2 linked regions of the Homo sapiens genome follow. The protein of the gene in region 1 purifies or fractionates together with the protein of each later gene. This does not show direct contact. Each region holds a gene or a part of one and is shown on either strand. Other genes may lie near its edges. The genes, in order: TJP2 and KIF14.

Region 1 (7,500 bases):
CTAAAAATACAAAAATTAGCCAGGTGTGGTGGCAGGCGCCCATAATCCCAGCTACTCAGGAGGCTGAGGCAGAAGGATCACTTGAACCTGGGAGGCAGAGGTTGCAGTGAGCCAAGATTGTACCACTGCACTCCAGCTTGGGCAACAGAGGGAAACTCTGTCTCAAAAAAAAACAATAAGCAATTAGCAAATATATAAATGATATGGTTAGTTCTTTGAACCACTCAAACACACATTTTTTTACTGACAAGTTTTGCTTTCAATTGCCTAATTAATAGTTCTCTGAGAGTTCGCAAATGCACCAGAATTTTGTATTGGAAACCTAATTTCAATAGGCACTTTAATAAGCAAATAACAACCAACCAGTGACCTTTGGAGATTAAGGTTTCAAGGGGTCTTTCCTTAGAAATTTAACTTCCAGCTGGATAGCTACACTAAATAGAAGAATGGGGAAGCAACAGCCTTCCTTACTTCCAGCTAAGCTCACAGCCTCCTCTTCCTTTACCTTCTATTTCTGAGTCACTGTCATTTAATGACGGGATGTTGATGAGGGTCTGCTGGCTGTCTCTCAACACCACTAGCTGTAGTTTTCCTCTTGACTTTTCTATCAATTTTCGAGCATCCGTTAAAGACATGTTCTCAGTTACAGTCCCATTGATCTGTGTTTATAAAAAATGGTAATGTTAAATGCAATAAAATTATTCACAGTAGAAAATTCATATTTTCCCCTTCTAAAAATGTAAAGGCTTTGCTCAGATATTCAAACAGATATTGGCTTTAGGATGACTCAATAAAAATGAATTGTCGTTTAAATTAAATATAATCCTGCATGCCTGGATCCCAAATACAGGTGTAAGTTACTCTGCTAATTTATTTAACTTCCAAGCTCAAGACAACGGTTTGGTTTACTACTGGAACGTGTTTCCTGACTGGAGAGGTTTACAAGACCTATTAAATATTCAGCATTCATATATCACCAACTTTCCTTCTCATCTTTCCTTAGTTTAGGGAATAGGGATCTAAACTTTAAACAGGAAAGAAGAAAATATTCATGGAGTTTTTTTGTTTTTGTTTTCTAAACTGACATTAAACTGTTACGACCCTCAATGTCTGGTTTTTCTGATAAAAATCGTCTCATTATGCTGCTCTTGCCACCTCTGTCTTACCACTGACTCTCACTGGATCTAAGTCTCACTGTGTGGGTGCTGAATGTGGACATGCAGGCGATGAACGGCAGTATGCACACTACCGTTCTCTGCCCCCATCTACCCACCTTGAGAATTATGTCTCCTTCGTGAAGGTTGCCATCTTTAGTTGCCAGACCCGTTCGGGTCATTTCCTTTACGAAGATCTGACTCCCAAGCCGGAGACCATACTCTAGGAGACAAACACATAAACATACACGTATGTTATCAATTTGTTCAAAAAACTTAGTCTGGTTTATAGGACTATTTTAAAATATGTATTAAAAAGTTAATTTTGTATATGGGAAATTCTGTAAGATGACTGGCCTGAACTCTTCAAAAAAGTCAATGCCATAAAAAACAAAAAAGGTAGAGAAACTGTTCCAGATTAAAAGTTACATAAAAACCAAATGCAATGCATGAACTACCATAGGTCCCTGATCCAGTGGAGGGTGGGGGAAGAATGAGTTACATCATTTGGAGCAATCTGAAAATGAACTATAATATATGAAAGGGATATTAATGTTAATCTTCTTAAGTGTTATAATGGTATTACGGTGACTGATGTAGGAGAATGTTCTTATCTTTGGAAGATACCTCTGAAATATTTATGGGTAATGGTGAGTTGCCTGCAACTTACTTAAATAGTACCAAAAAACCCACTGAGAGAGGTAACAGGAAGGGTGATGGAGTAGAAGGAAAGAAAAAAAAAGGAGGAGGAAAAAGAAAGTGTGGCAAAATGTTAACAACTGGTAAAACTAGATGAAGGTTATATGTTTATTTGCTATAAAATTAACATTTTCTTTTTCTTTCTTTTTTTGAGACAGAATCTTGCTTTGTCACCCAGGCTGGAGTGCAGGGGCATGATCTCAGCTCACTGCAACCTCTGCCTCCCAGGTTCAAGTGATTCTCCTGCCTCAGCCTCTCAAGTAGCTGGGATTACAGGTGCCCACCACCATGCCCAGCTAATTGTTGTATTTTAGTAGAGACAGGGTTTCACCATGTAGGCCAGGCTAGTCTCGAACTCCTGACCTCAGGTGATCCACCCGCCTCGGCCTCCCAAAGTGCTAGGATTACAGGTGTGAGCCACTGCGCCTGGCCAAATTAACACTTTTCAAATAAAATGTTGGGGAGAAAAAAAAACAATTCAGCACACCTTAATAGGCATGTTCTGCTGACAATGAGGCTGTCTACAGGAAGGCACTGCAAAAAATCTAGCATTTTAGATTATATGAAGCTTGGCATTGAAAGGAATTCAGTGGGTGAAGAAAAGGGGTAAAGAAGTCAGGCAAAGTAATTAATAAAGCATTCAACTAAAACCAGCATAGCTTTGGGAGTTTATGGACTCTGAATTGCTATCAAAAACAAAAACATTGTAATTACTAAGTTATGCATATTTTTAAATACTTTCAATGCTACTTAAGACTCTTCTGGTTTTACTTAATAAACTTGTAAAAATACATTATTTTAAGAATAACTGTTCACATTTTAGGAAACTACCACAACAGAGCAGGTTTTAAAACAGGCACAAAATTTTTTATTATTGTTCAAACTAAAAATCTTATAATTACAAAACAAAGTAACTTTCCACAATTCAGGAAAGGTATGAAGTCAATTTTAAAATAAGTTTTAAATGATTTACGGTAAACTTGTCAGCCAGATCTTACCACAAAGATTAGAAGTGTTGTGGCCCATGCCCTAGTCCTTTAGGAAGCTGATAGTCAAGAATGGAATAAGGGAAGGGCAAAGCTACTTTCATGGATGGCGAGCCCCTAGTGGTCAAACAGCCTCACAGCCCAGAACAGAAGGCTGAGTGAGACAAGCTTGAGTGATAACATCTCTCTGGCATTTTTCAACAATTCCTCAATCCTCTTAAAAAATGCACTCATTGGCCAAGCATGGGGGCTCACGCCTGTAATCCCAGCACTTCGGGAGGCTGAGGTGGGCGGATCATGAGGTCAGGAGATCGAGACCATCCTGGCTAACACGGTGAAACCCCGTCTCTACTTAAAACACAAAAAATTAGCCGGGTGTGGTGGCGGGCGCCTACAGTCCCAGCTACTTGGGAGGCTGAGGCAGGAGAATGGTGTGAACCCGGGAGATGGAGCCTGCAGTGAGCCGAGATCGCGCCACTGCACTCCACCCTGGGCGAAAGAGCGAGACTCCGTCTCAAAACAAAACAAAACAAAACAAAACAAAACAAAACAGAAACGAAGCCTCCTAACACACAAGGTTCTTGTGAGGACTACGTAAAAGAATATTCAACATAGCCCTTGCATAGAGCAGAAACTCAACAATGATTAGGCGGAGTACTGTCCTCCACTGTGGTTTTCCACTTGAGATGCAGCAAGGCCACTAGGAGAGCTTATTAACATAGAGACTCTGAGGGCCCACCCCATGGTTTCTTTTTTTTTTTTTTTTTTTTTTCAAGACAGAGTCTCGCTCTGTCACCCAGGCTGGAGTGCAGTGACATGATCTCTGCTACTGCAACCTCTGCCCCTTGGGGTTCAAGCTATTCTCCTGCCTCAGCCTCCAGAGAAGTGGGGATTACAGGCACCCACCACCACGCCCACCTAATTTTTGCATTTTTAGTAGAGATGGGGTTTCATCATGTTGGCCAGGCTGGTCTCCAACTCCTGACCTCAAGTCATCCGCCCACCTCGGCCTCCCATAGTGCTGGGATTACAGGTGTGAGCCACTGCACCCGGCTCCACCCCATGGTTTCTGAGCTGGTGGGACTGGGTTGGGCCTGAGAGTCTGCATTTCTAAGGGGTGCCCAGGTGATGCACTGCTTTGAGAACCACTGGTCTCCTAGTTTAAAGCCAAAATTCTGAAGCCTGGCTCTTCCAATGATGACACAACTTTGTGTATATCAATGAACCTTTTGTGCCTCAGTTTCCTTGTCTATAAAATGGAGAAACAAGAGTCCTCCCTCATGAGGTAGTTCTGAGGATTAAACGAACGAATTGGTGTTAGGCATTTAGGTCAATGCTGGGTACAATGCTGGTTAAGTGCAATTAAGAGATAGCTCGGCCAGATGCGGTGGCTCACACCTGTAATCCCAGCACTTTGGGAGGCCAAGGTGGGCAGATCACCTGAGGTCAGGAGTTTGAGACCAGCCTGGCCAACCTGTCTCTACTGAAAATACAAAAATTAGCCGGGCGTGGTGGCAGGCACCTATAATCCCACCTACTTCGGAGACTGAGGCAGGAGAATCACTTGAACCCAGGAGGCAGAGGTTGCAGTGAGCCGAGATCATGCCACTGCACTCTCCAGCCAGGGTGACACAGTGAGACTCTGTCTCAAAAAAAAAAAAAAGTTAGCTGGCCAGGTGCAGTGGCTCATGCCTATAATCCCAGCACTTTGGGAGGCTGCAGTGGGCAGATCACCTGAGGTCAGAAGTTCAAGACCAGCCTGGCCAACACGGTGAAACCCCGTCTCTACTAAAAATAAAAAAATCAGCCAGGCATGGTGGTGCACGCCTGTGATCCCAGCTACTAGGGAGGCTGAGGCAGGAAAACTGCTTGAACCTGGGAGGCGGAGGTTGCAGTGAGCCCAGATTACGCCACTGCACTCCAGCCTGGGCAACAGAACAAGACTCAAGACTCCGTCTCAAAAAAAAAAAAAAAAAAAGTAGCTATTCCTGGCCAGGCGTGGTGGCTCATGCCTGTAATCCCAGCACTGTGAGAGATTCAGGTGGACGGATCACCTCAAGTCAGGAGTTCAAGTCCAGCCTGGCCAACATGTTGAAACCTGTCTCCACTAAAAACATAAAATTAGCTGGGCGTGGTGGCGGGTGCCTGTAGACCCAGCTACTCAGGAGGCTGAGGCAGGAGAATCACTTGAACCCGGGAGGTGGAGGTTGCAGTGAGCCGAGATCACGCCACTTCCCTCCAGCCTGGATGACAGAGCAACACTTTCGGGGGAAAAAAAAAAATTAAGAAAACAAAGGTTATTCATATCACAACAGTGCTTTTCTTCCCACATCAAGCATGCCTACCTTCGTTCGCTCTGCTTTTCATCAGGAGGACCCCGATGGGCCCCGGCCGCCCCCTAGGCTCGGGGCTGGGGCTCCGTGAGTGCGGGTGCTCGCGGCTGCGGCTTCGGGGTCCCCGAGAGCGGGCATCGTGGCGGGCCCCGCGCCTGTACTCCGGGCTGTAGGCCCGCTCGTAGTCTGGGTCGTAGGCCCGGTGATAGGCTCGCTCGTAGTCCTGGTCAATGCTCCGGCCGCGGCTGCGGTCACGGTCCCGGTCCCGGGATGGCCCAAAGTCGTGGTCCAGGCCCCGCTCCAGGCTCCGGCCACGGCTGCGGTCTCGGGTGCGCGCATGGTCTTGGTCCAGGCCCCGCTCCAGGCTCCGGCCACGGCTCCGGTCCCGGCTGAGGTCCCGCTCCCGGCTCCGGGCCCGCTCATGGGGACGCCCCCTTTCCGGGCTGTCCTCCCAGCTGCGGCTGCGCCCCCCATGGCTGTTCAGCCGGCTCCTCTCGCTGTAGCCACTCCGGAAACTTCTGCCATCAAACTCGTCCATCACCTCAAAAGCCCGGTCATCCTGATCCAGGGGAGGGCTGGCCTGAAGTGCGGCCACCTGGACCTTCCGGGGCCTCTTGACCACCTGTTGTCAAAACAAACTCAGTGTGGACGCAGGACAATCACAACTGAATGTGGAGAAGGCAGTGGTTAAGAGCCCTGGTTCTGGTTTCAGGAAAACCGTATCCCTGCCGACTCACTAAGGTTCAGGTTCCTCATCCGGAAACGGACAATAAAAATCTCACAGGGTTAGAATAGGACAATGACCGTGAAGCTCTGAGTACAGGGCCTTGAATTAAGGTAATAATAAAATAGTATCTCCAAAATCTGCTTCTACTCAAGTTTGAAAAGTCTCAGAGGCCCAAATCACTAAGTTATAAAACTCAAAAAACAAAAATCCAGAAAGTGTGACATTCTATACATAGCTGCCAAGGGGGCAAAGGCGGATAAAGAGAAGTTGATTGATGGGTACAAATATATGGTCTGATAGAAGAAATAAGACCTAATGTTAGATCGGTAGGGTGACTACAGCTTACAGGAATCTACTGTACATTCCAAAATAGCTGGAAGAAAATAATCTGAACGTTTCTACCATAAAGAAAAGACAATTATTTAAGGTGATGGATATTCCAAATACACTGATTTGAATTTTACAAATCATGTCTACAGCCATACCATCCTGAACGTGCCCAATCTCATCTGAATTTTACAAATCATATTAATGTATTAAATTAATCACACATACCCTATAACTATGCATTATGCATAAATTTTTAAAATTTTAAGGAAGAAAAGTCAATGCCTTATTTATTTATTTATTTAATTTATTATTAAGACAAAGTCTCGCTCTGTTGCCCAGGCTGGACTGTACTCAGCTCACTGCAACCTCCGCCTCCCAGGTTCAAGCGATTCTCGTGCCTCACCCTCCCGATAGCTGGGATTACAGGCGCACACCACCATGCCTGGCTAATTTTTGTATTTTTAGTAGAGACGGGGTTTCACCATGTTGGCCAGGCTGGTCTCGAACTCCTGACCTCAGGTGATCTGCCTGCCTCCATCTCCCAAAGTGCTGGCGTGAACCACTGAACCTGGCCCAATGCCATTTTTAAAGTGGGGGGTGGGGTAGAGGGGCAAGGGGAAAGAGGAACCCTTCTAGATTAAAAGGAACTAAAGAGATAATGATTAAATGCAATGAGTGAACTTTGGATCCTGGATAGGGAAGAAAACATATATCAAAGACATTTTGAGAGCTGCGTATGGTGGCTCACACCTGTAATCCCAGCACCTTGGGAGGCTGAGGTGGAAGGATCGCTTGAACCCAGGAGATCAAGATCAGCCTGGGAAACACAACAAGATCCCATCTCTAAAAATGAAAAAGACATCTTGAGATATGGACTGGATTTTAGATAATACTGTAAAATTATTACTTTTCTTAGATCGGATAATAGTATTATATAGATGAATGTCCTCATTCATAGGAAATGCATGTGAAGTAAGTAGAAATGAACTGTCATGTCTGTAACTTTCCTTCGCATGGTTGCCCAGAAAGACATGAGTGTTTATATACATACAGAGACCAAGTAAAGATGGCAGAATAGTAATATTTTAGAAGATAAATGTTTATTACACTGATCTTTCAACTTTCCTTTTTCTTTGAAAATCTTCATAATATAAAGTTGAAAAACATTAAATACCATATATGTGGCCGGGTGAGGTGGCTCACGCCTGTAATCCCAGCACTTTGGGAGGCCAAGGCTGGCGGATCACCTGAAGTTGGGAGTTCGGGACCAG
Region 2 (7,500 bases), on another chromosome or scaffold:
CAATTTTGTGATTAGCCTTCTGGTTATTTATTTCCTGCATTTTTTTCCTTTGAGACTCTTCTCTCTTTAAAGAACAATAATAAAAAATATCTCAGGCAAAAACCGTAGCAAAAAAGTACAAAAGTCCCTTTCTTTAACCAATGTACAAGAAATTACTCACTAATAGAAAAGTTGCCCTATTAAAGCTTCTCCACTTCATTCAGGTTAACTAAAAATACTTAAGAGTATTATCTAAAATGGGCTTCTGGGAACCCAAGATTTCCAATAAACCATGGAGACAGCCATGACTCAAGCGGCTAGAGGACAGAAGTTTCTCTTTATTTTTATTCCAGTAGCCATTGTCTATTATCGCCACCAACTTTTTTCTTTTTTTTTTTTTTTTTTTTTTTTTTGAGACAGAGTCTCACTCTGTCAAGGTTCACTGCAGCCTTGACCTCCCTGGGCTAGATGATCCTCCTAGCTCAGCCTTCTGAGTAGCTGGGACTACAGGCGCATGCTACCACACCCAGCTAATGTTTTAAACTTTTTGGAGAGACCGGTTTCCCTACATTGCCCCTGGCTGGTCTTGAACTCCTGGGCTCAAGTAATCTGCCCGCCTTGGCCTCCTAAAGAGCTGGGATTACGGGCATGAGCCACCATGCTCAGCCCTGACTTATTTCTTAAAGTAAAATTAAAGAGGGCCAAGACTCACTGTGGCTTTGATTCACTAATCTCTGATCTCTCCCAGTTCCCTTATAGGGACATAATCAACTTTATAGGCAACACATCACTTGGGGTACACTGTCGGAAAAAAAAAATAAAACTAATTCTGCCTTTTACCAGTTCTGCTTCCAGTGCTTTTATTTTGCTTTCATATGCAGCTTTTTGAGAAGAAAGCTCTTGCTGAGCCATTTCTTTTGCAATCTGGATTCCTTGCATCATTTCTTCCTTTGCCTTCAACTGAGCCTCTTTTATTTCTGCTTCAAGTCTACAATGTAGCAAGATGTTTATAGGGTACATGTTAAGAATTCTTTATACATCATAATAGTTCTTAATCCTACTGAAAAGTTTTCCATTGAATGAAAGTTTCAATCTTAAAACTTGATTTCTGACATTCTATCAACAGTGTTTTTAAAATTTTCACTGGCTCTACAATTGTTTACACTCAAAATTTAAACACGCAGGACGAAAAATTGCTTATTTCTAACTTAGTTACTATTGCAGATGCCTGACATTTAAATAAAATCAGTGCTTTAGTAACTACATTATACAGAAATTTCCATTCCCAATTTTACTGAAAAAAAGAATAAGAGTATAAAAAAGAAGGTTAGTGGATATCACAGCTAGGGAGAGAGGAGAATGGCTATTGTTTAACAAATACAGAGTTTCAGTTTGGAATAATAAAACATTTCTGGAGATGGATGATGGTGATGGTTGCACAACAACGTGAAGGCACTAGGGTGGGCACAGTGACTCACGCCTGTAATCCCAGCACTTTGGGAGGCCAAGGCAGGTGGACTGCTTGAGCTCAGGAGTTCGAGACCAGCCTGGGCAACATGGTGAAACCCCATCTCTACAAAAAAATTCAAAAATTAGCCAGGCGTGGTGGTGTGCGCCTATAGTCTCACATGCTCGGGAGGCTAAGGTGGGAGGATGGCTTGAGGCCAGGAGGTGGAAGTTGCAATGAACCCAGATCATGCCAACTGTACTCCAGCCTAGACGACAGAGCCAGACTCCATCTCAAAAAAAAACCAAAAAACAAACAAAAAAAAAACCACAAAACAATGTGAAGGTACTTAATGCCTTTGGACTATACAATTAAAAATGGCTAACATGGTAAATTTTGTGCTATTTATATTGTATTCAATTAAAAAAATTCTTTTTAAAGGGCAAAAGCAGGTTGAGGCTTCTTAAAAGGTGACAAAGCAGTTAGTCTAGCCTATAACCAGTTCTTGATTCCTCCTCCTTTCATCCTCTTTAGTCACCAGGCCTTGTCAATCTTATCTCCTTTATGTTTCCTTCCTACCTAATCACACTATATTTACCTTACTTCAATAGTCTCTTAGCTGCATTTGCAGGTTTTAAGCTTGCTCTATCTCTAATGCATTCTCCAGATTTGAGTGCCAGTGATCTCTCTAAAAATGTAATTCTGATTATGAGTGTCTCACGTCTGCTCAAAATTCTTTAATGTTTCCCTTATCCTTTAAGATAAAGTCCAAACTCTTTAGCATTTTATTTGTATATACTTTACCATTTAGCTTACAAGGATACTACTTATGCCAGAAATCCTACGATACTGCATGAACTAAAACTGGGGCACAAGAAGAAAAGAAAAACAAAAGTACACTCTCCCAGTCTTCCTCTGGCTAAATTCTAATCGTCTATTGGGATTCTCCTCTATGGGACGTCTTCTCATCTTCTAGAAACCTTCCCTGATAACCGGTCAGGGCCAGGTGTCACCCCGTGAGCTTCCACACCACACAGTTCGGGACTCTTGTCAGAGAACTGTGTCATAGCACTGTTATAACTGTCAGCCCCTCGAGATGATGAATTCTTTCAGCACATGAGCTAAATTTCAATCCTTATTCTTTATATCTCCAGCATTTGGTACAGTGACAGACACATAATAGATGGTCAATATATATTTGGTGAACTAATGAATGTACTAAGAGAAAAAATTATATCACTAGAAACCAGCACCCAAAGAGTTAATTACTAGAGACTGGCACAATGTGATTAACTCTGTTGTAGATCTCTCTCATACACTTACTATTTCATATCAACAGCATACTTACTGTGATCTCTGTGCCATGAGCAACTCATTTTTTGCAAATTCAAAGTCTTTTGGACCCTCACTTATAGGAGTATCTCTTCCAGATGGCCTTTTTCCTTTCTGGACTTCTACTGGATGATTAAATCTAAAATAATGATCTCCACCAAGAATCACTCGATCACCCTAAAGCACACAAAAAAATGTACTACTTGAGGTGAGTCTCAACCAAAAAATTAAATGAGAAAATTTATTTTGCCCAACAATTCAATATAGTCTAGTATTAATGATAAACATAAACATCATAGCAACTAACATTTATTACTTTTTTTTTCTTTTGGCACAGAGTCTCACTATGTCACCCAGGCTGGAGTGCAATGGCACAATCTCAGCTCACTGCAACCTCGGCCTCACGGGTTCAAGCAATTCTCCTGCCTCAGCCTCCCGAGCTGCTGGGATTACAGGCGTGTGCCACCACACCCAGCTAATTTTTGCATTTTTAGTAGAGATGGGGTTTCACCATGTTGGCTAGGCTGGTCTCGAACTCCTGACCTCATGATCCACCCACCTTGGCCTCCCAACGTTTATTACTTTGTATATACCAAACACTGCATTAAGCACATTACACATATAGTCATATGTCTCTTAACAACAGGGATATGTTCTGAGAAGTACACTGTTAGGTGATTTCATAGTTGTGTGAATATCATGGAATGTACTTACACAAACCTGGATGGTATAGCCTACTACACACTTAGGCTATATGGCATAGCCTATTGCTCCTAGGTTACAAACCTGTACAGCATGTTACTGTACTGAATACCATAGGCAACTATAACACAATGGTAAATAATTGTATATCTAAACAGAAAAAAATACAGTAAAAATACAGTATTATAATCTTATGGGACCACTGTTACATATGTGGTCCCTCATTGCCCAAAACATCATTATGAAGTGCAAGACTTTATGTTATCTCATTTACGATTCACAACAACTCAGTGAGATACATATAATCATCCCAATTTTAGGAATGAGGAAACTAAACAGCACAAAGCTTAATAATAACAAGAGACATTCATTGAGAGCTTACTATTTGCAGATACTATTCTAAGAACTATATACACAAATTATTATTTCAGTTAATCCTTCACTATCTCTGAAAGGCAGGATATATAGAGTCACAATAGGTCTGGGTTTGCCTGTAACACACTGCTGATGTTTGTTCTCTTGATGTAATTATTAATAATGATCTCAAAAGTGTCCTGACTTGGGTGACATTGTTTAATCATCTAGTTAAATAACTTGCCAGACGTCACAGAGCAAATGGCAAAGCCAGGATTTCAACCCTGTCTGTCTGATTCTAAAGCCTAGCTCTTTATAGGACACATAATGATGCTATTAGTGGTCAGCTCTTCAGGTACTGATTCATATAAATGTAACTTTTGTCTTTGCACAAGAAAGCAATTAATAGGAAAAAGAATTTTTGAAATGAAAAAGTCCTTAATCTGCTTCAACACCCTTATCTTATAGAGAAAACCAGAACTCAAAGAAATTAAATGACTTATCCAAAGTCGAACAGTTTCTTATATTATAGCACCCATCCACTTACATGACGTAATACTGTGATTTCCAAAATATGTTTTCCATTTACATATGTCTTTGCTTCCCCAACTGGGATAATACTCACTGTCCCACCAAAATTTTTGATAGTACTGTTAAAATAAGAAGCACATAGTTAACAATTATAGAACACACTAAAAAGTAAGAAAAAGGCAATATGGGATAATTCTGCTTGGGCTATTCCTTTGGTGTTAAGATTCATACCAATATGTAACAATAATTTAAAATTATTTTATTTTCCTCCAACTAGTTTTTTTTTTTTTTTTTTTTTGAGACGGAGTCTTGCTCTGTCGCCCAGGCTGGAGTGTAGTGATACAATCTCAGCTCACTGCAAGCTCCACCTCCTGGGTTCAAGCAATTCTCCTGCCTCAGCTGCCTGAGTAGCTAGGATTACAGGCACCCACCACCATGCCCTGCCCAGCTAATGTTTGCATTTTAGTAGAGATGGGGTTTTGCCATGTTCGCCAGGCTGGTCTCTAATTCCTGACCTCAAGTGATCCACCTGCCTCGGCCTCCCAAAATGCTGGGATTACAGGCATGAGCCACTGCATCGAGCCTCCAATTAGATTTTGAAGTTTGGTGAAAAAAGCCTGGCCTCTAGCAATCCGATCCACCTGTGGTGGGAACATTCTTCATTGGGTGTATTTTTATTATAACTTCTTTGAAAACAAAAACCTTCCCCCAAAAATTCAAAAAAAAAAAAAAAAAAAAAAAAACTAGCAAAAAACATTAACATACTGCCAGTGATTTCTTATGAATAAAACAGTTTTAAGTGTTTTTTTAATTTTCTAAGCTTCTGGTTTTACATATGAGCTTTAATAACAGAAAGAACAAATATTTCTCCCCTTTTGAAAAGTAGGGTACTACAGAGGAAGGAAAAACATGGAGATCAAAGTGTACCCCTTAAGACATCTAATTTACTGGATGATAAGGTGATACTGTGGAAAATCAGCTATAAGTGCTACATATTTGAGTCTTTTTATTCAGAGAATAGGAAAGAAACTCCAAAGTCCAATTCATCTTTGGATTAACGGGATAGAAAGAAAAACTGCAACAAAAGCTGAGTCCTAACCAAAGATCTTTTTAGCTGTGGATTAGGCTCCAAGATCTGTGATTAGAGAATAATAGTTTAATTAAAGCATCTAGAGAAAAGTACATGGAAACAATAGTTCACCCTTAGGCACTACATCCCTCCTACCAGTCTAGTGTCTTATCCAGGTGAAGGTTTATACAATGTGTACTTGTTCTGATCCCTTTCCTCTCCTAATTCTATCTACTCTGCTCTCAAAATTCCATGGCCTACCATTCTGGACGCCCCACAATCTGGCTTCAACCACCAACCTCCCTCATCTGCCACTATTTTCCCATAAGAACCCCATTTCACACTTAATCAACCATATGAATACTCTGAATTTGCCTTAATGTCAGCTTTCCTCCTTTCCTTGAGTCATTCCTTCCAGATAGGACATCCTCTCCCTTCTTGCAACCATTCTTGAAGGCCCAATTTAGAGTCCTCTAAGAAGCTGTTCTTTAGGGTTTAAGTTAGAAGTCAACTCTTCCTTCTCTTCACTTCTAAGCAGTAAGTATGCAGTACTCATAACACTTAATATGCATTAATAGATACTGAAGTTCTTTTTTTCTCTTTCACATGACCAGCCTCAGCCATGAAGTTCTTTTATTCATTAAGCCTCCAAGAGCCAGTTATGTGTCAGCAATGAAGACAGACATGAAATCAGCTTTCATAAAGTTCATGGTCTAGTGAACAAGATAAACTGAGGAAGGTACGAAAAATGGAAGTAGAGAGTTAGAGGCAAGCAAGAGGCTTCCAAGTTCCTTACTGGACTCTTAACTCTTTGGGAGCATGTTCTGTATCTTTGCCACAGATGTTAATAATACTGTATTTATTTGTTAAAGAAAATAATTAATTAATAAAAGAGCAAAAGAACCTAAAGAACAAAAGGATATGCCCTAACAGATATAAAGATTCATGGCCAGGTGCAGTGGCTCACGTCTGTAATCCCAGTACTTTGGGAGGCCAAGGTGGGTGGATCACCTGAGGTCAGGAGTTCAAGACGAGCCTGGCCAACATGATGAAATCGTCTCTACTAAAAATACAAAAAACTAGCTGGGCATGGTGGCTGCTACTCAGGAGGCTGAGGCACGAGAATCGCTTGAACCCAGAAGGTGGAGGTTACGGTGAGCCAAGATCACACTACTGCACTCCAGCCTGGGTGATAGAGTGAGACTCCATCTCCAAAAAAAAAAAAAAAAAAAAAGATATAAAGATTCATTACAGGCCGGTCGTGGTAGCTCACACCTGTAATCCCAGCACTTTGGGAGGTCAAGGTGGGCGGATCACCTGAGGTGGGAGTTTGAGACCAGCCTGGCCAACATGGTGAAACCCCATCTCTACTAAAAATACAACAATTAGCCAGGCGTGGTAACAGACATCTGCAATCCCAGCTACTCAGGAGGCTGAAGCAGGAGAATTGCTCGACTCCAGGAGGTTGCAGTGAGCTGAGATGGTGCCACTACACTCCAGCCTGGGCAACAGAGCAAAACTCTGAAATCAAAAAATAAATAAATAAAGATTCATTACAAAGCTCAAGTAATTACGACCATGGGGTATTAGTAGGAAGAAACAGATTCTGATATTTTTAGAAATTTTTTGTAGGAGCACTACAGATTCCAAAAGAAGCAATAAACTATTTAATATTTGGTACTGGGAGAAATGGCTATTCATGTGGAAAATAAATGAATTTAGATCCCTAATTCACACCAAATAAAAAATTCCAGACATTCAATAACTTAAATGTGAAAGCAAAACTTCAAAACATCTAGAAGAAAATTTAGAACATCTCTATGACCTCAATGTACAACAGTCTTTTTTTTTTTTTTTTTTTTTGAGTTAGAGTCTCACTCTATTGCCTAGGGTGGAGTATAGCAGAGTCATCTTGGCTCACTGTAGCTTCCACCTCCCAGGTTCAAGTGATTCTTATGCCTCAGCCTCCCAAGTAGCTGAGACTATAGGTGCCCACCACCATGCCGGGCTAATTTTTGTATTTTCAGTAGAGATGAGGTTTCACCATGTTGGCCAGGCTGATGTTGAACTCCTGGTCTCAAGTAAT

The links.
Region 2: the proteins of TJP2 (region 1) and KIF14 purify together in Homo sapiens (affinity purification with mass spectrometry; 2 studies listed by BioGRID and IntAct, with this or other methods). This does not show direct contact.

What each region holds. Positions count from the first base shown.
Region 1 is NC_000009.12:69,219,181-69,226,680, reverse strand, and holds part of TJP2 (tight junction protein 2), read right to left. Parts: intron 5,795-7,500; coding exon 5,185-5,794; intron 1,378-5,184; coding exon 1,274-1,377; intron 660-1,273; coding exon 506-659; intron 1-505. UniProt on the Homo sapiens protein: Plays a role in tight junctions and adherens junctions. Acts as a positive regulator of RANKL-induced osteoclast differentiation, potentially via mediating downstream transcriptional activity.
Region 2 is NC_000001.11:200,589,306-200,596,805, forward strand, and holds part of KIF14 (kinesin-like protein KIF14), read right to left. Parts: intron 4,465-7,500; coding exon 4,362-4,464; intron 2,936-4,361; coding exon 2,775-2,935; intron 968-2,774; coding exon 820-967; intron 65-819; coding exon 1-64. UniProt on the Homo sapiens protein: Microtubule motor protein that binds to microtubules with high affinity through each tubulin heterodimer and has an ATPase activity. Plays a role in many processes like cell division, cytokinesis and also in cell proliferation and apoptosis.